2 separate regions of the Homo sapiens genome follow, and region 2 is linked to region 1. Evidence: fine-mapped expression QTL. A gene starts in region 1. The other region holds a variant in brackets. All regions are shown on one strand. Distances are from middle to middle. Region 1 holds the start of PHF10 (PHD finger protein 10). Region 2 has its middle 35 kb from the start of LINC00242.

Region 1 (2,904 bases):
CCTTTGAGGAACCTTCAAAATGAGTCTCACAGCACGGTGGACGTGCGCAACGGGAAAAGCTCCCAAGCAGGCGCAGCCCGGCTAGGCTGCTACAGGACGGCTTCCCCTGCCAACGCGCACACGGCACACCGCGCACCGCACGAAGGCTGGCTGGCTCTGCAGCATTCCAGTTCCCACCGCCTTCTAATTTCAATCCAATTTCAAGCTTCCAGGCTTTTAAAACATCATTCCTCCCTTCCAACTTTCTGTCACAAACTGCTAGCCTAACTTTAGAACCAAAACGTTTTGATGCGTGACACTACTGCTCATCTCCATTTTCTCCACAAGCACCAATTTCTTTTCACCTCCTCAAGCAGTAAAAAGTTTTAACAGACTTCCGCTGAAAACATCCGGACGCTTGCGTATTAACTTAGTTATTACAGTAAGTTCACTGAGTGTGTTGATTTTCCATATCGTTCGCCACTCGGTTTTTGCAGTAAGCGTTCAAACACTTCGGCAAACTATGCGCGGAATGAACGCTGAGCGAACGCGCGCTTCTGCAGGCCCCTCCGAGGCCAACTCTCTCGGCCCCGGGCGCGTTCCGTCCCACGGCTGGCCTAGGAGGAGGCGTTTTGGGGACAAGCTTGTCAAGCAGGGCCGGCTGCCAACTTCGGGGAAGCCGCGCCGCGTCCCCCGCCCGCCCGCACTTGTTGCTCGCTAGAGGCCGCGGGCTCACCTCGGGGCCCCGCCTCGCCGACCACCCCCGGTCTCAGGCGCGGCGCCCGGCCTGGGCCCACGCCCCCGAGACGCTGGGCGGCCGCCGGTGGGACTGGGCCCACGCCCCGGCACCCAGGCCCGGGACGGGGTCAGGGTCGGGTCGCACCGGCCGCTTCCTCACCTTCGGGGACTGCGCTCCGGGGGTGGCTGGGTCGCTGTCGCACGGCCGCGGGGACAGCGCAGCCCCGGGCCCGGCCGCCGCCGCCATCAGCCCGAGCGCCCCGCGCCGCCGCCGCCGCCGTCGCCTCCGCCTTGTCCCGGCCGCCGCCGCCGCTGCCGCCGCCGCCGCCGCCGCCGCCGCGCGGGCCCCCCGCCGCCCCGGCCCCGCCCCCTCCGCCCGCCCGCCCGGGGGCCGGCCCCTGCCGCCGCGCGCCCCGCGGCCCGCCAGCGCCGCCGCCACCGCCATGGCCGTCGCCAGCGCGCCGCCCGCGCGGGAGGGCGCCAAAGGCTGGGAGGGCGCGGGGCTGCGGGCCGGAATGGAGGAGGCCCAGCGGCGGCGGCGCTTCTCACGTCAGCCCAACCCGCCCGGCCGCGGCCACCGCCTCAGCACCGTTGCCCCCCACAGCTCCGCCGCTGGCCTCAGCGCCGCCGCGACTCCCTTCAGCCCCGCCACTCGCTCGCCTCAGCCCCGCCGCTCGCTCGCCTCAGCCCCGCGGCCGCCTCAGCCCCGCCGCTCGCCTCAGCCCCGCCGCTCGCCTCAGCCCCGCCGCTCCCCTCAGCCCCGCGGCCGCCTCAGCCCCGCCGCCGCCTGGCTCCCCACGGCCCGGCGTTGTACTCGGCCGCGGCTCCCCCCAGCCCCCGGCGCGCCCCACCTCCCGCCCGCCCTCCGGCCCGCCCCGGCCCGGCACGTCGCCACTTGGCGCGCTCGCAGCCGCCCCCTCCCCGCGGCCCCCGGCCCGGCCCCTCCGCGCGTCACCCTCGTTCCCTCCCTCTCTCCGCGCCCCCGCCGCGCCCCTCCCCGCCCCTCCCGGGGGTCCCCGCCCCGCCCCCTCTCTGCCGGGGGTCGCCCTGCCCGGAGCAGTCGCGCGGAGACTGCGCGGCCTCCGCCTCTACGCGCTCGCGGTCGCCGCTCCTCTCCCGCCTTTGTTCTCGGGTCGCCCCTCTCGCTGGTGGCGCTCCGAGAGAGCAGCGGAGCCACCTGCCCAGGCCACGCTTCCCCGAGCATCCGCAGCTGCACCCGGGGGCTGTCGGCGCCCGCCCCGGAGCGTGCGGGAGGCACAGCGGGAAGAAGTCGCTGAGATTCGGCCCTCGTGGCTTTGCGTGCCCGCGTGGTTGATGCCTCCGCCGAGAACGCGGTCGGCCGGGAGCCGGGGAGGAGCGTGGACGCCGGCCTGGCAGGTACCCCCGCGAGAACGTGGGAGCCGGTGTATTTCAGCTGCATTTATTACTGATCTCGGGCTGCACCAGGGCACTTGTAGGACCGCACTAAAAACAGCGGAAAGTGAGGAGCCAAGCCTGGGTCCGGGGCGGCCCGCCGTACAGCTGGCCTCACGGATTCCACTGCCTGCGCCTGCAGATGACTTGTTCTGGAGAGTAGAGAATGTTCTCGGATTTAAAGTACAATCCGGTTTCCTTTCCATTCATTATAGTTGCCTACACTCAACAAACAAAAGTTGGGAAAGATAAAGGGATTATTCTAGCGCGTCACATTGACAAACACCGACGTTAACACGCTCAGTCCAGCCTGACTCACTTGCCTCAGGTCAGAGAGGTCACCACTGACGACGCCGGGCCCTCAAGCCGATCCTAATCCAGCTTGGTTCTCTCAGCCTCAGCCAGACCATCCGTTCTTGCCTCTGTCCCACCACGTGCAGGTGTAAGCTTCCGCCGCACTTCTTGTCTGAATCTGCCAAGAAGAAACTGCATCTTTCAGCTAAATTCTTTTCACTGATCAGGGTAGAGTTTAGCGGTTTTTTTTTTAAGAAAAAAAACAAAAACAAAAAAAAACTCTTAAGCTATTTGGTACTCCTCTCCCTCCGGGATTCTGTCTCTAGATTGTGAAAGCTGTCAGAGAATGGAGTCAGGGAAAGCCGTGATGGGAAAGTTCTCACTAATAATTGCCTGATATAAAGAATTAGCACAAAAGACTGCCAAAACCACAACCTTGCACAAAGGCCACAAAACTACACAAAAAAATGCTTCAAGGAC
Region 2 (2,904 bases), 110 kb after region 1:
TGGGACAGAACCCAGAGCCACAGGGAGAGCTGTGTCCTTGAGCAGCACAGATCCGAGGCAGCGCCTCTGGTTGCCCAGCTAGTTTAGAAGCATGATCAAACATGTGACATGAGAAGCAATATTTACCCTTCTAAAATGTGGCTTCAAGGATAGATTGGTTTAAGCCAAGCCTCCTTTACTTTTCCAAATAAGAACAGACACACACTGATAGGAAATGAAACAGGAAATGGCCCCCCTGGCTAATGTGTGGGTAGGGTGAGATGATTCCTTTAACTTGCTCAGCATGAGTGCCTTCTCAGGATGTGACAGGAGTTCATGTCGGGATTTAAGAACATGGACTTCTTGGATCTGTTGGTTGTATGTTCTTGGGAAAGTTACTTATGCCTCAATTTCACCTGCAAATTGGGGTTAATAATGTTTAAGGTCACAAGGTTGTTCCAAGGATAACACGAGAGGGTGCATGTAAAGAGGTGGGTGTAGCACCTGCCGTGTAAGAACTGCTCAGCCTACATTAGCTGTAATGACGATTGGTGAAGACACCCGCTTGTTAACTGTTGTGTTCTGTGAGCCCCCCAGAAGCACCTTGTCCGTAATTATCACACAGAAGGCCTTTTCCTCCACTTTCACCGTACACAGAAATAATATGTAAGGCCCAGACTTAAAATGTAGGCTGTCATTTTTTTCCTACTCGAAAATAATAGAGAGAAACATTTCTTTTTTTCTTTTTATTTCTAGTGCACCTATATATGTGTAAGAATGGTTTATTACTCTCGATCTTCTAAGTTAATTTTGGGGGAAAATAGTAACTCCTTCAAGACTCTAGAGTTTCCTTTAGCCAATTAGACATTGTGATGACTCATCTGAGAGAGTATGAGTAGGCTGCTTATGAAATTTATTCTGCCACCCAAAGATGATAAACTTAAAGAAGTCCCTCACCCAGACACAGCATAATAAAACAGCTGAAAACCAAACACGAAGAAATCTTAAAGTCAGCCAGAGGAATCAGCACGTGACGCACAGGGAGCAAAAATCCAAAGGAGCGTGGATTCACCTTCAGGAGGAGCCCTGGAGTCCTCAAAGTGGCACAGCAGGCCCAGAGCATGGAGGAAAAGAGCTACGCACCTTGAACCTTATATCCAGCAAAAGTGTCTTTCAGCAATGAATGTGAAATACAGACAGTCTCAGATGAAGACAAACTAAGAATTTATTTCCAATTTACCTGTGATAAAAGAAGCGCCACAGAAACTTCAAGCAGAGAGAAACAGTAAGGATAATCTGGAACTTCAGGAATGAAGGGAAAGTGACAGAAATGATAAATGTCTGGGTGAATAAAATAGGCCTTTTTCTCGGTGTGTATGAGGAATGAAGGCAGCATCCATAACACTGGTCTTTTCAGCTAACGCAGAGGTCCACACAGAGGGGAGGGCACGGGGCCAGC[G/A]GAGGGCATGGAGGCCGCTGTGGAAGTGGCTTCTGTAGTCCACATGAAACAGCAAAATGTTATCCTCAGTAGACTGTGAAAAGTTAATTGTGTAAATTGTAATTCGTACGTGAACCACACACCCACACAGCTGTGCAAAGAGATATAAACCAGACCCCAATAGACCCTTAACATGGAATATTAAAACTATTCTAAGAATCCAAATGGAGATATAAAAGGGGAAATTGATTAAAAAAATGTAAGACACAATCAGAAAACAAATCATGAAATGACATACTTAAATCCAAACACCCCAGTAACTAAATTAAATATAAGTAGCTTAAGCATATCAATCAAAAACCAGATGATCAGATTGGATATTTTAAAAAGACCAAACTGTGCTGTCTCCAGGAAGCCTACTTTAAATATAATGATGTAGGGGGATGAAAAGATGCACCACATAAACATTAATGATAATAAAAAAGCTTCGGTGGCTGCAGAGACGAGATAGACATCAGAGCCAGGAAGATTGTGGTTGATGAGGAAGGGCACTGCATGATGGTGAGAGGTCAGGTCCACAAGCAGACGTTGCCGTCCTGAGTATGCACGTGACAGAAGAACTTCAAAATATACGAAACATAAACTGGTGGGACCGAGAGGAGAAATGATGGATTAATAACTGTAGTTGGTAGTTGGAGTCTTCAACACTCCTTTATCAGTCATGGTTAGAATAGAACAGAAAATCTTCTAGAAGGAGGATAAAGAACTGAACAGCATCACCAACCACCTGGACTCACTTGACATGTGCAGAACACGCTGCCGAGCAATAGCAGCACACACGTTCTCAGGGGCACGTGAAATGTTCACTAGGGTAAATCATGCCATGGGTCATTGAAAGCTCTAACAATTTTATAAGATCTGAAATCATGCAAAGCATGCTTTTGACCACAATAAAGCTAAGCTAGAAATTAATAACAAAAAGATATTGGGGAAACTTCCAGCTACTTGAAGGCTAAATGACACACTTAGATAATGCATAGGTCAATTTTACATTTCAAAGAAATTAGAAAAAAATTTGAACTGTATGAAAATTGGAAACAGAAAAACAAGAAAGAAAATCAATGAATTCAAAACAGTTCTTAAAAATATCAACAAACTGGTAAATGACAGAGAGAAAAGAGAGAAAACAAATGATCAATATTAAGACTGAAAGAGATGATAGCATTATAGACACAACCGACATAAAAATGACAGTAATGGACCACTATGAACAACTCTACGCACCTAAATTTGAGAAGTTAAATGAAACGGCCAAGTTCCTTAAAAGCCACACACTATTAAAACACACTTAACAAGAAATAGATAAACTAAATAGTTCTGTATCAAAGAAATTGATTTTTTAGTTAAAAATCTTCCAAAAATAAAACTCCAGGTCCAGATGATCTCACTGGAAAATTCTACTAAACATTCAAAGAAGAAATATCAGA

The links.
Region 2: its variant is fine-mapped to the expression of PHF10 in whole blood (INTERVAL, PIP 0.96).

Annotation. Positions count from the first base shown.
Region 1 is chr6:169,722,968-169,725,871 of GRCh38, forward strand. It overlaps PHF10 (PHD finger protein 10), which reads right to left and starts at 1,533. Exons shown (of 12, transcript NM_018288.4): 1 at 878-1,533. The coding sequence starts at 964. It also overlaps a transcript of DYNLT2 not described here. RefSeq lists silencers at 635-1,014, 1,115-1,354, 1,425-1,724 and an enhancer at 1,656-2,198.
Region 2 is chr6:169,832,593-169,835,496 of GRCh38, forward strand. No RefSeq gene overlaps it. Among named protein-coding and RNA genes, the nearest start is that of LINC00242, 35 kb to the left of the region's middle. The variant G/A (reference allele first, on the strand shown) is at 1,439.